Regions from separate parts of the Homo sapiens genome. Here region 1 is linked to region 2. The links come from fine-mapping of genetic effects on gene expression. A gene starts in region 2. The other region holds a variant in brackets. All regions are shown on one strand. Distances are between the middles of the regions.

Region 1 (8,689 bases), 140 kb before region 2:
AGAGAGGGAGACAGTGACATCTCCAAAAGGTCAGTCCGGCTGCCAGTGGAGCAGAGGTTGTGGTGAGGGCAGGGGGACCACCTAGGAGGCTGGAGTGGCCAGTGAGCGGCTGCCGCGTCCTCCCCTAAGGCAGAGCACAGGGCAGTGGCTGCAGAATTGAGCAGAATTGAGGCCTATTGGATAGGGGACAGGGAGGCAAAGAGCCTGATGGGCGTGGCACCCTTGGCCAAGGTGTAGGGGCAGGATGGCAGGGTCAGGTTTGGAGGTATATTTGAGAGCCCCCAGGATGCCCGGTTCAGATGACTACAAGGAGCTGGTTCTGTGGAGGGGGCTGGGCAGGACGTCTTAGGCCATGGGTGAAAATGGAGGATGGTGTCCAGGGAGATGGTGAACCCGTGGGAGTGGGTGGGACATCCGTGATGGAGAAGAGGAGACCTCATGCCCAGGACAGATCGGAAGGCATGAGGTCTCCTCTCCCACCCCCACCCAACCCCCTCTGTAGAGGGGACAGCTTGGAGGTGTGAGCCACACCACCTGGTCAAAGACCCACTAAGACAATCCCTGGGGGGCTCCTCTCCAAGGGCTTCTTAAGGGCTGGGCATTGCTAAATGCTGTACAGGATTTTTCTCATTTAATTCTTACAACAGCCCCAGGGATTGTCCCCATTTTACAGAGGAAGCTGATGGCTCAGGCGTGAGTAACCACCCCAGGCCAGTGCCCAGCTTGTGTCAGACCTTCTGAGGAAGCCAAGTCTGTCTGACCACAAAGCTGCCTCCTACCCAGCATTCCTCTGCAGGGTCCCTGCCCTGCCCTGCCCTGGGGGACTCCTGGGGGAACCACATCCGTGCTTAGGTGTGGCATCCAGGGGGCACTGGGGAGGGAGCCCGCCGAGGGGTGCCATGCGGGACTTGGCGTCCCCACCTGCCTGGTCCATTCCTCCCCCCACCCCACTCTGCCCTGCCCTGCTGCCACCTCAGGGACCTCTGTGGGCTCTAGGTCCTTTCCATCCCTTCCACAGCCTGGACAACAACAGGCCCTTTCCCACTTCCTGAGAAAGTTCCCAAAGAAGTTCATTGTAAAAGCTACTCTTTGTCTTTTTTTTTTTTCCAAAAAATGTGTTTTTAATCAATTTTATAATAAAATCCAAACTGAGTTCTTGAAAACAACAGCAATAAGAAATTGAAAAAAAAAATCTCAGTGCCAGGAAGTACTGACTCTAGCACTGCCCTCCCCAGCCCCAGCAGCAGCCCTGGTGCCCCATTCCCCTGACTCCCTCCCCCACTGCTGGTCACCAGGCCTCCTGAAGCCACCTCTGGAATATCCCTGAACTGCTCTCCTTCTGTCTCTGGAGGGCACCCCACCCCCCCACCCGCCACCAACTGCTCTTCCTGCCTCCTACCTGGCACCCTTCCAATCTGGTCCCCAAACTGTCCCCAGGGGCTCTCTCTAAAAGGCAAACCTAATTCCATCAGTGTCCTTTTCTCCAACTTCATCAGGGATTCAGGATTCCCAGGAATAGAGCTCAATTCCCTAGCTCGGCATTCAGGGCTCCACTGTCCCTGAGCACTCCAGCCTCCCCCTCGCCATGCACCGGACCCCCTGCTTTTGGAAATGTTGGTCCCTCTGCTACGGACACCCTCCCTCCACCTGTCCATCTGACAATGCACCTCATTCCTCAACAGTGCCCCATGGACACTCACCTTCTCCTGCCCTCCCTCGTCACAGTGTGGGGGTTTCTGTCATCTCACCATTCTATCCAGGCTGACCTCGAAGGCCTGGGCTCCAGCGATCCTCCCACCTCAGCCTCCTGAGAAACTGGAATGACAGATGCACACCATCATGCCCTGCTTTGGTTCTTTAGTTCGCCCTATATGTGCCAAGTCCTGTGCTAAGTGCTGCATACAGTGGAAAACAGCGCAGGCAGGAACCCTGCGCCCACGGAGCTTATTATCCCTGCTGTTGTTGCCCAGGTAGACCAGTCATCCTCGGTGCACGGGAGCCACGCATACACACAGCTGACCAAAGTGCCTGCAGGCAGCCTGTGCTGCTTAAGCTTGTGGGGAGAGGGAGGTTTAGAAACAGCTGCTCCCGTCCTCACCAAGGGACTCCAGCCTAGAGAAGGAGTCTTTGGGGAAAGTCCCCCACTAAGCTGCCACGCCCTGAGATCACGCACCCTCTCCCAAGGGCTCTTCCGAGCACCACGTGGGGCTGAGTTACTGAGATGGAGGTGGCAGCAAGGGATGCCACGCAGGATGAGCAGGGAGGCATCATTCTGAGTCCTGCCTGCCCCTCCCACTTCCACCTTTTCTTTTCTCTCTTTTTTTTTTTTTTTTTTTTTTGAGACAGAGTATTACTCTGTCGCCTGGGCTGGAGTGCAATGGCACGATCTCAGCTCACTACAACTTCTGCCTCTTGTGTTCAAGCAACTCTTGCGCCTCAGCCTCCCAAAAAGCAGGAATTACAGGTGCATGTCACCACGCCCGGCTGATTTTTGTATTTTTAGTAGAGACAGGGTTTTGCCATGTTGGCCAGGCTGGTCTTGAACTCCCGGCCTCAAGCAATCCAACCTCCTCTGCCTCCTAAAGTGCTGGAATTGCAGGTATGAGCCACTGCACCTCACCCTTTAAGCAGTATTTTAATGGTTTTGTAGTGGTGGGTGGTTGCTATGAAAATCTCACGTTTGTTCTAACAATTCAAAGAATAAACAAGCATATAAGGAAAAAATGGATAGTCTCTCCCCTGTCTCCCTCCCCCAGCCCACCCCTGGCTCAAGTCAACCTCACTGAGGCAGAGTGGGTTAATAATTTGGCAAGTTCATTTCCATTTCATCCCAGCACTCATGACAATACACCCGAATGACGCACCCAGAGAGAGGACCCTGCAGCTTTGCTGGGTCAGACAGATGTGGCTTCCTCGGAAGGTCTGACACAAGCTGGGCACTGGCCTGGGGTGGTTACTCACGCCTGAGCCATCAGCTTCCTCTATAAAATGGGGACAATCCCTGGGGCTGTTGTAATAGAGGGTGAGATGAAATGCATTGCTTGGAACTTGCTTTTGAACTTAAAAATGTACGAACAGACATCATTCCAAGGTGATACATACAGAGTTAGCACACACGCTCTGTGACTGTGTACACTGTTTCCTGTGGACCTTTATTCACTTGTTTAAAGGGTGCTCTACAGACATTTTGGCTTATTTTTCTTCTCGAACAAGGAATGCTCTAATAAGCCTCCTCCTGCATGAATGGTTTAAGCAGTAGTTTCGTTACTCCCTGGGTTTAGGATAAATTCCCCAAAACAGGATCACTGGATGAAAGGGTAGCTGTGGTTAAATTGTGAATAGGGCTTGCCATTTTATTCATAGCGATTCCCATGTGCCCCAGGACTGTGGGGGGATCCCAGTTCCCCACACCCTGGCCGACTCTAGATGTTATCCGTTGGTCTAGACCTTGGCCAACATCATAAGTGAAAACTGACATCTCATTGTTTTGAAATTGTGTTTCCTGAGTATGACTAAGGTTAAACATCTTTTCACCTGTTAGTTGGCTTTTAAAATTTCCTCCTCTGTGAAGTTTCAGATCTAATCCTTTGCCCGGTTTTCAGTTGTGTTGTTTTTATTTTATTTTATTTTCCCAAGTCCTATTCTGCCCTAATGTTTGTTTGTTTGTTTATTTATTTATTTTGAGACGGAGTCTCACTCTGTTGCCCAGGCTGGAATGCAGTGGCATGATCTCGGCTCACTGTAAGCGCCGCCTCCTGGGTTCACGCCATTCTCCTGTCTCAGCCTCCGAAGTAGCTGGGAGTAAC[A/C]GGCTACCACCACCACGCCCGGCTAATTTTTTGTATTATTATTATTTTTTTTTTAGTAGAGACGGGGTTTCACCATGTTAGCCAGGATGGTGTTGATCACCTGACCTCGTGATCCTCCCGCCTCAGCCTCCCAAAGTGCTGGGATTACAGGCGTGAGCCACTGCGCCTGGCCTGTTTTTATGTCTTTTACAAACACCTTGTAGGACCTTTTTAGGACATTATTGATATTAATCTGTTGTTGTTTATATGTGTTGCAAATATTATTGTCCAGTGTAATATTTGGCTTTTGCCATACAGAAGTTTGTATATATTTAAGTTTTCCTTTTGTTATGGAAATTTGAAAACACACTAAAAAATAACAGTAATAATGAACCCTCAATATACCCATCTCTGAGAGTCAACAGTTAGCAACATATAGCTAATTTTCCCCTGTTATGGAGGGTTCTTTTTGACTTTGCTTGTGGTGGTTGTGCAATGCAGAGATTTTTACCTTTATGTAGTCAACTGTAGCGGTCTTTTCATTTGTGGAGTATGGATTTCATATACCTAAAAAGGTCTTCCCACTCCACGATTATTAGCAAAACAAAACAGAAAGTACTCTTTCAATACTTCTAAAATATGATTTATTATTATTATTATTATTATTATTATTTTGAGACAGAGTTTCGCTCTTGTTGCCCAGGCTGTAGTGCAGTGGCGCGATCTCGGCTCACCGCAGCCTCTGCCTCCTGGGTTCTAGTGATTCTCCTGCCTCAGCCACCTGAGTAGCTGGGATTACAGGCATGCGCCACCATGCCCGGGTATTTTTGTATTTTTAGTAGAGATGGGGTTTCTCCATGTTGGTCAGGCTGGTCTCGAACTCCCGACCTGAGGTGATCCACCTGCCTCGGCCTCCCAAAGTGCTGGGATTACAGACGTGAGCCACCGCGTCCAGCTATGATTTATTGTTTTTAGAATGGTAGCATAGTACTTTTTTCATATAGAAGCCCATAATTTATTTAACCAATCCTCCATTACTGAACATCTAATTGTTTCTGATTTTCCCCTATTTTAAATCATGCTGTATTGAGCATTCCTGACTTCTCCACCCCTTCTGGATTAGGTCAAAGCAAACCTGAGACATCAAATCATTTCATCCACAAATATAAGTTTATAATTTTTATTTATTTTTTTTTTGAGAAAGAGTTCTGCTCTTGTCGCCCAGGCTAGAGTGCAATGGTGCGATCTCAGCTCACTGTAATCTCTGTCTCCTAGGATCAAGTGATTCTCCTGCCTCAGCCTCCTGAGTGGCTGGGATAACCGGTGCCTGCCACCATGCCCGGCTAATTTTTGTATTTTTAGTAGAGACAGATTTTCACCGTGTTGGCCGGGACTCCTGACCTCAGGTGATCCACCTGACTCAGCCTCCCAAAGTGCTGGGATTGTAGGCATGAGCCACTGCGCCCAGCCAAGTTAAAAAAAGTTTTTAAAATAGAGATGGGGTCTTGCTATGTTGCCTTGGCCTCAATCGATGCCCCTGCCTCGGCCTCCCAAAGTGCTGGGATTACAGATGTGAGCCACCTCACCTGGCATTCAAATTTTTATATTATAGCCAGGCGCAGTGGCTCACGCCTGTAATCCCAACATTTTGGGAGGCCAAGGCAAGTGGATCACCTGAGGTTGGGAGTTTGAGACCAGCCTGACCAACATGGAGAAACCCTGTCTCTACTAAAAATACAAAATTAGGTGGGTGTGGTAGCACACGCCTGTAATTCCAGCTACTCGGAAGGCTGAGGGAGGAGAATCGCTTGAACCCAGGAGGCGGAGGTTGCAGTGAGCCAAGATTGCGCCATTGCACTCCAGCCTGGGCAACAAGAGCAAAATTCCATCTCAAAAAAAAAATTATATTATAAAGCCTGTTAATCTTCTGGTCTTTCGTCTTCACTTTTAATTTTATTTATATTTTGATTAGACACGGTATTCACATGGTTCAAGATTCAAGAGAACAAAAGGATATGCTGAAAAATGCGTTTCCCACCCTGTTCTCCAGCTCCAGTTTCCTTCCTGGGAAACAACTCGTGTTATCAGCGCGTGCACATATAAAAGCAAATTGTGTGTCTCTGTGCTTTTTCCATTTAAGTACAATTGATAAACGACTTGAACACGGCTCTGCGTCTAGGTTTTATTACTAAACAACCTGTCCTGGGGAGCGTTCTGTAAGGAGAATCCTAGTTATTTTTGATAGCCATATGCATTCCATTGCAGGGCATACAATAATCATTCATTTATCCCATCTCTATTGGTGGACATTTAGGTTGTCTCCAGCTATTAGATTGGTGCAAAAGTCATTGTGGTTTTGGCTCAATGTTGCAGCGATGCAGTGGAAAGCCTTGTGTATTCCTTTCACTTACGTGTGAGCATTATCTGTAGGATAAATTTCTGGAAGTGCCAAGTCAAACAGGACATGTGTTTATATGTTTGATAAATACTGCCCAAATATTCTCTTTTGAGGTCGAGTCAGTCTACACACCAACCAGCAATGCAGGGGGTTGCCTGTTTTCCTCCCACCCTTGCGAATAGTGTGTTACCAAACTTTTTTTTTTTTTTTTGAGACAGGGACTCACTCTATCGCTCTGGCTGGAGTGCAGTGACACGATCATGGCTCACTGCAGCCTTGACTTTTCAGGCTCAAGCAATCCTCCCACCTCATTCTTCCAAGTAGCTGGGACTACAGGCACGTGCCACCACGCCTGGCTAATTTTTTTTTTTTGGTAGAGACAGGGTTTTGCCACGTGGCCCAGGCTGGTCTCGAACACCTGGTTTTAAGTGATTCTCCTGCCTCAGCCTCCCAAAGTGCTGGAATTACAGACATGAGCCACTGTGCCTGACCTACCAAACTGCTTTTTATCTTTGCTGATCTGGTAAGTGAAGAATAGTATCTTTTGTAGTTATAATTTTCATTTTCTTAATAAGTGAGTTATTGAACATCTTTTTACATGTTTATGAGCCCATGAATTTTCTTTCTGCAGGAGCAAGCACTGTCTCTTCATCTTTTTTTTCACAGGGGGTGGACAGAGTCTCTCTCTGTTACCCAGGCTGGAGTGTAGTGGCGCAATCTCGGCTCACTGCAACCTCCACCTCCCGGGTTCAAGCGATTCTCCTGCCTCAACCTCCCCAGTAGCTGGGATTACAGGCACCCACCACCATGCCCACCCAATTTTTGTATTTTTAGTAGAGACAGGGTTTCACTGCATTGGCCAGGCTGGTCTCGAACTCCTGACCTCGTAATCTGCCTGCCTTGGCCTCCCAAAGTGCTGGGATTACAAGCATGAGCCACCACGCCCAGCCCACTTAGGCTATTTCTGATTTTCCAGTATTATAAGTAATACTGCAGTGAAAAGCCTTGCATATAAATATTCTATTTCCTTAGGCTAAATTTATTTATTTTTTTGAGACAGTCTTGCTCTGTAGTCGAGGCTGGAGTGCAGTCATGTGATCTCAGCTCACTGAAGCCTCTGCCTCCCAGGTTCAAGCGATTCTCGTGCCTCAGCCTCCCAAGTAGGTGGGACCACAGGCATGCGCCACCACACCTGGCTGATTTTTGTGTTTTAGTACAGACACAGTTTCACCAGGTTGCCCAGGCTGGCCTTGAATTCCCGACCTCAAGTGATCCACCTGCCTTACAGGCATGAGCCACCACGCCCAGCCTCTTCAGGCTAAATTTCTGAAAGTGATCTTCATTCCTAACCCCAAACTGCCCTCCAGAAAGCTGGGTTGCACTTCTGCCACAGCAGGATCTTTACTCCTCTTAAAATCTCCGCGGAGCCTGGGTGGGAGAGGCAGAGCTCCGGGGGGAAGATTCTCTCCTGGCCTGATGTAGTGTTTTCCTTGGCTTGTCAGACATGGAGGAGATTATGCCAGATATGATAGTGGAGAGAGTCAGACATGCATGAGACTGGAGAGAGAAAAAAAACAAAATAGCCTCTGAGGTCTCACTCACAGCCTACTTACTCTTACTTTACACACAATTCTATATTCCGATATGTTTGTGACCTGGTTTTTAAGAGTACAGAGCAAATTAGGAAGGAGAAGCAAGGCTGCTACCTAGAGGTACCCTGGTCCTCCATGAAGTTTCCAAAAGAAGAGCAAGTGCAAGTAAAATAATAAAACACAGCCAGTCACAAAGCCATCAATTTGGACCATGCAGTGCAAGGCTTTAACTGTCCCAAGGATTCCAATCATGGATAAGGAAGAGCTTAAATTTGATTATAAATCTGAAAGTCTGGAAGTCAGCTTGAATATTGTGGTAGACATAATCATATCCTCCTCCTCAAAAGATGCCCTGGTTCTAATGCCCAGAATCTGTGAATATGTTATGCTACCCCACGAAGGGAAATTACAGTTGCAGGTGGAATTCAAGTTGCCAATCCATTGATTTAAAATAGAAAGATTACCCTGGATTATCTGGGTAGGCCCGATGTAATCACAAAGATGCTCACCAGTGGAAGCAAGAGGCAGAACAGTTGGTGTCAGAGTGACAGATTGTGAGAGACTGGTGGGCCACTGCTGGCTTTGAAGATGGATGGGGCCACCAGCCAAGGAATGTGGGCAGCTTCTAGAAGCCAGAAAAGCCAAAGAAACAGGTTCCCTTCCAGCCTCAAGAAAGCTGTATCCCTCAACCCCCTTGCTTTTAGTCCAGCGAGACCCATTTTGGACTTCTGATTTTACAAAACTTGTAAGATAGTAAATTAGTGTTGTTTTATGTTTGTGTTACGGCAGCCACAGGGAACCAATACAAATATTATCTGGTACCGCCCATTAAAGCTGCTCAGAGACAGGGAGCCCCACCCTGGCGGGGCTCCGGTGGCTGCACAACCTCTGCAAGCAGGATCAAGATGAGAGGC
Region 2 (8,689 bases):
GTATGTTTTTGGAGTGCTGGAGTGACTTGTGAATTTCTGAATATTTTCCCTTCATCTAACATTGATTGAACATCTCTTATGTGCATAGTGGGAGCTTAGTATTTGCTGAATGAATAAAAATTGAAAGGAAAAAATTTAAAAAGACCCAATCGCACTGATCATTGAACACCAGTATACAATAACTTTAGGGTCATATGGATCATTGGTTTCACGATTACAGTAGGTCTGGTGCATGGCACTCTCAGATCTAGTAGAGGCTCTGATGTCAGTAGCAGGATGGAGGAGAGCTGGGCTTACAGCCTCTCAACTTGTTGGCCCTTATACCATCACTGCACTCATGTCCTTGCTCTGTGCAGAAGTAGAATCAGAAAAGCATCAGGCACCTTCATGGTATAAATTGTGTCTATGGGTGCAGTGAATAAGCAAAAATCAGAAGCAGACCGGAGGGACTTATAAAAATAGGTACAGGGTCACAATGGGTGCCTATATGTAGCCTGTGACAGATAAGAAGCTGACAGTGAGACAAACAAAAAACTGAGGCTAGAGCCTCATTCCTCTGACTCCTAATCCAGTGTTCTCTCCATGCTCTCCCACTGTCTTCAGAATTGAGTAGAAATGTGATCCCCTCCTGAATCCTGTTTTTTGCCTCTTACTCTCCCATAATTTGGAAATTTCCTTGTCCAGTGGTTTATATTCTTTTCTAGAAAAACTAAAACTGGGTGGAGTGTGGTGGCTCACACCTATAATCCCAGCACTTTGGGAGGCTGAAGCGGAAGGATTGCTTGAGGCCAGGAGTTCAAGACCAGCCTGGGCAATGTAGTGAGACTCCTTCTCTACAACAAAGTGTTAAAAAATTAGCCAGGCATGGTGGAGTATGCCTGTAGTCCCAGATACTCTGGAGGCTGAAGCAGGAGGATCACTTGAGCCCAGGAGTTCAAGGCTGCAGTGAGCTTCCACCGCACTCCAGCCCGGGTGATAGAGCAAGACCCTGTGTCTTAAAAAAAAATTAAGACAGTATTTAGACTTATCAGTTAGATTGTTTTATTTAAATCCTTCTAACAATTTAGGCAATTCTACATTAATTTTCATCAAAATTTATCCAGTCAAAAAAATTTCATGAATACTCCAGATGTAAGAGAGTCACAATTTTCTACGATAAATCAGACATCTTATTTCTAGGGTGATTGAGGGAGGTGGAAAGCGCAGGAGGAAGCCAGTGAAGAGGACAATGGAATGCTGAGTCAATGACATTGACTTGTGTTCCTATCTGCCATCTTGGGTGTGGGTCTTTATATGTGGTTACAGATCCTTTAGTTTGAGGGAGGTGAGGTAGAGAAATAGGATGCCAGCAGGTAGGAGGCCGATGTCAGTCCTCCCAGCAAAGCTGTGTCATTTATCTGAATGGAAATGAGAAAATAAATATGTACTCAATAAGTCACATTTCCCAGAAATGTGATTGAGATTCTCAAAAAATAGACTCAGATTCTTGGCTGTCTGTTTAACCAATCACGATATGGGATTTGAGAAATAAAATTTAGGGAATTTTAAGAGACATGAAAGCTACTAGGTCAGGGAAAATAAAAAGCTTAAATAACTATTTTTATTGTCCAGATCCTCTACTGTAATAGATTAACTATGTTCAATAAATTTCTAGACAAAATTGACTTGTGTCTGTGAGTGTGTTCTGGGAAGAGAGAAGAGTTAAACATAAGGCAATCCATCAGATAATCCTCAATCAGCCTACACAGTTGGTACAGCGAGCTCTGGGCTAGAAGATCCAGGCTGAGGAGGAGGATGGAGAAAGATTGAGATGTAGAGCCTCTGGGTTGAGAGGGACCTCTGAAATGAACTCATCTAGACTGCTGCCATGGAGATGGTGCTCTACAGTAGCCCTGTCAATCGCTGGCTGGCTTCTGCCTAGGTAAGTCTGCCTTGAATTCATGGTGGTATGTTATGTTACAGTGGTATCCATCTTGGTACTTTTGTCCTCTGCAATGGTGAGTGGTGGGGAGTTTGGGAAATACTACCTCTTCTAAGAGGTTTGTGTAAACCTTAATGGTGTCCTGGTACCACCCTGTGAATCCTTCTTTGTAACTAATGTTTTCCACCCCAGAGCCTCCACATTCATGAGGGATGCCAAAAATCGAAGAAGTTCTTCGTAGATGTACAGCCCAGCACATTCACAACTGAGCATTGTTGCCTGACAATTCATTTATTCAACAATGAATGTTTGAGTGCCATGCATGGTTTTGGGTATCCACTTGTGAGCAAGATGACCTAGGTCCCTGCTCTCACTTGGTGGAGGGGTAGGGAAAGCAGGTAGGTACGGAGAAGGAAAGAAGATAGAACTCTATGCCCTGCAAGCTACTGCTAGAAAACTAACACTTCTGTCTTCCCTCGGGACTCTCCTAGGCCCTTTCACCACTTCTCACCTCTCACCCACATTCTGCACTCCCAGCTAAAGCAGCCAAAGGACTATTTGATTTGGCAGAGCTTTCAGGCACAAAGCCCTATGTTCCCTCTGGCCCAAAGCCACTACTCTGAAGGCTGAAAACTGCCCTTTGGCTCAGGTTGCTGTCCAGTCACAGCCTCACAGATAATTTGTGCTGAACCTTGAGGTGAGGGCAGAGGCCACTTCTTTAAATACTTTGTCTTCTCTACTGCCTTACATTTGAAAAGCACAGGTTGGATCAATAAGTATTAAACGTATAGCGTATTACTCCTTTGAAGCCTCCCTGCTTGACTCCTCCCTTTCCTGCCTTCTCATTCCCTACTTTATTGCATCACAGATACGTAATTTATTACCAAGGATCTTTCATAATTCCCCACCCCTGCCTCTTTCTTCTCTTGCCCACACTGTGTGACTTAACAGAGTCAACAATACATATAATTCCACCAGCAACAAAGAAAATAAGTTTTGTTTTCCTATTGTCTGTTTTCATGAAGAGGCCCTTCTTAGTTAATCTGAAAGCTATGGCTTATACCATAGTCCTCCATCATATCTAAAGCCAGGAACTAGAACTTGGGCTTGTGCTTGAGTCCTGGGTAAAGAAGGGTTGAGTGGTGCTAATTCTTGGCTGTCTGGGTGCTCTTGATTAGTGATAGAATCCTAGTCAACACTGTCGCTTATCCAGACCCAGGAGAATAAAAATCTACTTGGCTCTCCTACTCTTCATTCTGGTAGCATCTTAGGCCAGGTAAAGTTCAATAAATTTTTTTGAATTCTAAGAAGTGGGAATTCCTCCCTCAACTCAAAGGCTATATTGTCAAAAACTCAACTCCCGGCTCTGTCGCTTCTTCACTGAGGGCAATTTATCTCCATAATCAAAGATGAATACATTCAGATGAACTCTTCTGTGTGGGTTTAAATTTTACTGTTCAGCATTCAGTCTTGCTAGTAAATAAGAAAAGATGAGAGAAATGGATTGAAAACTCCCACAAGACCCTCTATGGAAAAGGAGCCAAAAGATTGCAGAGGTATATAGAACTTTAGAGCTTTTGAGTTTAATGATGTCTATCCCTATACCTTCTTTCTGGAAAGCAGATTTTTGTGAATTGAGGGCAGGAACATTACAGAACTGATGCTTCATGGCTCTGGAATACTAAGTCCTCTGAGCCTGGATCTCCTTCAGCTCTGCCACCTACCTCCTTGTTTGCTAAATGTCCTTAGAGAAGTTAGGATATGCCTGGGGAACCCTGGGTCATATAACCATGACAACTGGCTGACCCTGTTGTCTCTCCCTCTCTGCCCTCCTCTAGCTGGGAGGTGGAAGCAGCATTGCCCAAGCCTCCCAGGAGTGACAGGAATTGTTTCTGCCTGAGGAGACACTCTGCAGCCTGGGCTCTGTGAGACTGAGGTGGCGGTCAGCCGGAGTGAGTGTTGGGGTCCTGGGGCACCTGCCTTACATGGCTTGTTTATGAACATTAAAGGGAAGAAGTTGAAGGTAAGGGCCTCTTGGGGATTTTGCTGGGGATGAAAAACTCTGCAGGGAAACTACTGAGGGAGAGATTCTGGTATAGATACCAGAATCTAGAAATAGAGGAATTGGATAGGCACAGTGGATCATGCCTTTAATCCCAGCACTGCAGGTGGCCAAGGCAGGTGGATCACTTGAGCCCAGGAGTTCAAGAACAACCTGGGCAACACAGTGGGATCCTGTCTCTATAAAAAAAGAGAAAAAATTAGCCCTGCATTGTGGTGCATGCCTGTAGTCCCAGCTACATGAGAGGCTGAGGTGGGAGGGTACCTTGATCCCAGGAGGTCAAGGCTGCATTGAGCCATGATCGTGCCACCACATTCCATCCTGGGCAACAGATTGAGACCCTGTCTCAAAAAACAGATAGGGAGAGGGGGAGAGGGACAGACAGAGAGAAAGAGAGAAATAGAGGAATTAACCCAGAGCCTTTTCAAAGATGAAACCTTTAACTTGTTTATTTATTTTTTTAGAGATGGGCATCTCACTGTATTGCCGAGGCTGATCTCAAACTCCTGGGCTCAAGCAATTCTCCCATGTCAGCCTCAGTAGCTGGGATTACAGGTGCTTGCCAGTGCACCCAGCTTGAAACTTCTTGTTTTAGTCTCTTTTGGACCCTCATTTAAGAGCCTTAAGATTTTATCTAAAACTTTTTATCTCTTATGGCTACCTGCATTTTTTATTTCCTAACCTGAACTCCTTTTTTTTTTTGAGACAGAGTCTCCCTCTGTCACCCAGGCTGGAGTGCAGTGGCAGGATCTCAGCTCACTGCAACCTCCACCTCTCAGGCTCAAGCGATCCTCCTGCCTCAGCCTCCCAAGTAGCTGGGATTACAGCTGCCCACCACCACGTCTGGCTAATTTTTGTATTTTTAGCAGAGACGGAGTTTCACCATGTTGCCCAGGCTGGTCTTGAACTCCTGAACTCAGGTGATCTGCCTGCCTTGGACTCCCAAAGTGCCGGGATTACAGGCCTGAGCCACCGCGCCTGGCCTCTTAACCTGAACTCTTATAGGAAACATTATTCTTGGCCGGGCATGGTGGCTCTTGCCTGTAATCACAGCACTTTGGGAGGCCAAGGTGGGCAGATCACTTGAGGCCAGGAGTTCGAGACCAGCCTGGCCAACATGATGAAACCCCATCTCTACTAAAAATACAAAAATTAGCCAGTGTGGTGGTTCATGCCTGTAATCCCAGCACTTTGGGAGGTCTAGGCAGGTGGATCACTTGAGGTCAGGAGTTCGACACCAGCCTAGCCAACATGGTGAAACCCCATCTCTACTAAACAGAAAAAAAAAAAAAAACTAGCCGGGCGTGGTGGTGGGCGCCTGTAATCCCAGCTACTTGGGAGGCTGAGGCAGGAGAATCCCTTGAACCCGGGAGGCGGAGGTTGTAGTGAGCCGAGATTGTGCAACTACACTCCAGCCTGGGCAACAGAGCAAGAATCCATCTCAAAAAAAAAAAAAAAGAAAGAAAGAAAAGAAAAAGAAAGAAACATCAGTCTTGACAAGTAAGCTATGGAGCAACTCATTGCTATGGGACCCTAAGGAGTGGGGCTATTGTGTGTGATATTCACCCTCCAACCTAATGCCTTCTGTTCAGGGCAAATGGGCCCCCAGGCAGCCTGGGCCTAGTTGGTGGCCATGAGAGGTAGGGAAGTGACCCAGTGGAGCTCAAGCCTGAGGGCTTCTGATGGGACCTGGGACTCTGTTTTGCAGCTTGAGGAGCGAGGATGGCAGTCAACAAAGGCCTCACCTTGCTGGATGGAGACCTCCCTGTAAGTAACTTGGGCTCATCTGTGACAGGGGATGGACAACTGAGGGAGGAGGAAGAAGCAGGGAGGGGAGATGCAGGGGACTTAGAGCAAGATATTCCCAGATTATAATCCTAGTTCATTGACTACCATGGCTTAGTTATTCTTGCCCTCACCACCTTTTGTAGGGGGCAGTTGGAGGATCTGGGAGGGGAAAAAAAGATGCCTATTAAAAATTAAGCACCTTGAAAAAAAGGGACAGAAATCCTGGCTTAGGGACGGGGGGAGTGGAGAGGAAGGAAACTACTGTTTAAACCCTGACGCAGAAGCCCATGCTCTGTCCACCACCCAGCTGGATGTGCATTCAGTGCAGAGCCACTGTATTCTGTGTCTCCAGCATCATTCATAACGGCAAATGTCACCTGTCGGAGTTAGACGGTGCACAGCCTGTGCTGCTGTGTGGGGGGAAGGGTGGGATATTCCATGTGTCTGGTGTTCTATCTCTGACCTGGTTTTCACTGTGACTTGAAGTGATTTGATACTTTTAGGGATGCTTGATGGCTCCTGGCAAGGCATCTCAGATTTGGGCACAGTTCGGATAGTGAAACTTAAAAATTATGAACCTGTGCAATATCCACCTTGCCCAAGTTACGCTTTTACTAACTCCTGCACTAGGAATCACTTTGTTTTGTATTGAATCATAGAACAGAGAGAGGCGTAAAATGGTCAAGTACATGGTTAAGCCATTCTAACAGACGGTGGTTTATTCCCTTCCCAGGATCTCTTTCCTCCTTCGGTTTTGTGTAAAACAACCTCTGAAGCCTCGTCCAAAATGTTAAAAAGAATGTTTTCTTGTTTATAGTCATAGTCTATTTCTAGTTCAAATTTCAAATTCACCTGCAGGATAAAAAACTAAGATATTGGCCAGGTGCAGTGGCTCACGCCTGTAATCCCAGCACTTTGGGAGGCCAAGGCGGGCGGTTCACAAGGTCAGGAGATCAAGACCATCCTGGCTAACACAGTGAAACCCCATCTCTACTAAAAATACAAAAAATCAGCGGGGTATGGTGGCGGGCGCCTGTAGTCCCAGCTACTTGGGAGACTGAGGCAGGAGAATGGCATGAACCCAGGAGGCAGAGCTTGCAGTGAGCTGAGATCGCGCCACTGCACTCCAGCCTGGGAGACAGCGAGATTCCATCTCAAAAAAACAAACAAACAAACAACAAAAAAAAACTAAGATATTGTGGGCTGCTCTGTCTTAGTGTACATGTAGGTGTCATTGATGGGGGTCTTTGAACTCTGCCTCCTACTAACAGAACAGGTCAGGTCTTCACTTTGCGAGCAAAACCATGCCACAGTGTCATATTCAAAGCTACAGAGAGCCTGAGCATCGGAATCTGACCTGGGTTTTTTTTTCTTTTTACTTTTGATATGGAGAATTCTCAACATTCATAAGAATAGACAGAAAAGAACATAGGAAGCCCCACGTACCCTTTATTAGCCCCGAAGACCATGAATTCGTGGCCAATCCCGCCTCGTCCTCACTTCCATTAATTCCCCCACTTCATGTTATTTTGAAGGTAATCCCAGGTAGGCCATTTCCAACTTGTGTTGGAATCCTGGCTCTGCCACTTATCAGCTGTGGGATCTTGGGTAAATCACTTCCTGTTTCTGATTGTCAATCTCCTCATCGACTCAGTGTTGGTGACAGTGCTGACCCCAGAGGATGGCTGTTAGAATTAAGTGAGCTCATGTCACCAAGGCACCCAGACCAGTGCCTGCAGCATAATGGCACCTGGCAAATGTTCTTTCCCTCTGCATGCCTAGAATTTGTTCTTTTAATTTTATTTATTTATTTTTTAGATATAGAGTCTTGCTCTGTCACCCCGGCTGGAGTGCAGTGGCATTGTCATAGTTCACTGCAGCCTCGGACTCCTGGTCTCAGACAGTCCTCTCACCTCAGCCTCCCCAGCAGCTGGGACTGTGTAGTCCACATGCCATCAAATATTAGCATGGCCAGCTTTTTTTTTTTTTTTTTTTTTTTTTGTGGCTCAGAGTGGTCTCAAACTCCTGGCTTCAAATGATCCTCCCGCCTCAGCCTCCCAAAGTGTTGGGATTACAGGCATGAGCTTCTACACTTAGCCCTAGAATTCATTCTTTTACTCAAAGACCAGTGTTTTTTCACTAAGGTTCCTAGGTGACCTAAAACTTAATTATGTGACTGCTGCCAAAGGTGCATTACTAACAGCACAGCACCCCGGAAATGATAAACGATTGTTCCACTACACCCAGCACGTGCAGATCGCACCCAGAGTGCTGTCTTTGAGTGTTGTTTGTTTGTTTTTTGTTTTTTGAGACAGGGTGTCATTCTGTCATCGAGGCTGTGGTACAGTGGCGTGATTATGGCTCACTACAGCCTCCAACTCCCGGACTCATGCGATCTTCCCGCCTCAGGTTCCCGAGTAGCCGGGACCACAGGCACACAGCACCATGCCCTGCTAATTATGTTATTATTATTTATTATTTTTTTTTGTAGAGACGGGGTCTCCCTGTGTTGCCCAGGCTGGCCTTAAACTCCTGGGCTCAAGCGAGGGTAGTATATTTTTAAGAAAGATAATGTAAAACTGTAGCATGTCCAGGAGAGGGGGTCACCAGACCACAGTGTGAACCATTTGTAAACGAAGTTAGGAACTGGAGCCATTTAACATGATGGCGGCACTTCTAAAGGGAGACATATTTGACTTCAAATATGTGAAGGGCCAACCCATGGATGAGGAAATAGGTTTGCTCAGTTTTGTTCCAGAGGGCAGAGTGTGGAACAGGGGGGTGGAGGCAAATTTCAGCTCAGCAAAGCTGTCCAACAAGGGACACAGGCCACTTTGTGAGGGGGAGAGCTCTCATTCAGGGAGACATTCAAATATAAGTCTTGGCTGGGCGCAATGGCTTAGGCCTATAATCTCAGT

Direction of the effects. Alleles are on the strand shown, and positions count from the first base shown. SD is a standard deviation of normalised expression in the study named.
As copies of A replace C in region 1, the expression in breast of the gene that starts at base 3,828 in region 2 goes up (moderate effect, 0.53 SD a copy in GTEx).

Evidence for each region. PIP is the estimated chance that this variant, and not a neighbour inherited with it, causes the effect.
Region 1: its variant is fine-mapped to the expression of PLIN1 in breast (GTEx, PIP 0.99).

Annotation. Positions count from the first base shown.
Region 1 is chr15:89,815,658-89,824,346 of GRCh38, reverse strand. LOC124903551 (a long non-coding RNA gene) reads left to right here. Exons shown (of 2, transcript XR_007064753.1): 2 at 648-1,163. Among named protein-coding and RNA genes, the nearest start is that of ANPEP, 5.2 kb to the right of the region's middle. RefSeq lists enhancers at 1,570-2,070, 2,071-2,571 and a promoter at 8,405-8,689. The variant A/C (reference allele first, on the strand shown) is at 3,807.
Region 2 is chr15:89,674,506-89,683,194 of GRCh38, reverse strand. PLIN1 (perilipin 1) reads left to right here and starts at 3,828. Exons shown (of 9, transcript NM_002666.5): 1 at 3,828-3,944; 2 at 5,692-5,750. The coding sequence starts at 5,706. PEX11A (peroxisomal biogenesis factor 11 alpha) reads left to right here. Exons shown (of 3, transcript NM_003847.3): 3 at 1-1,660.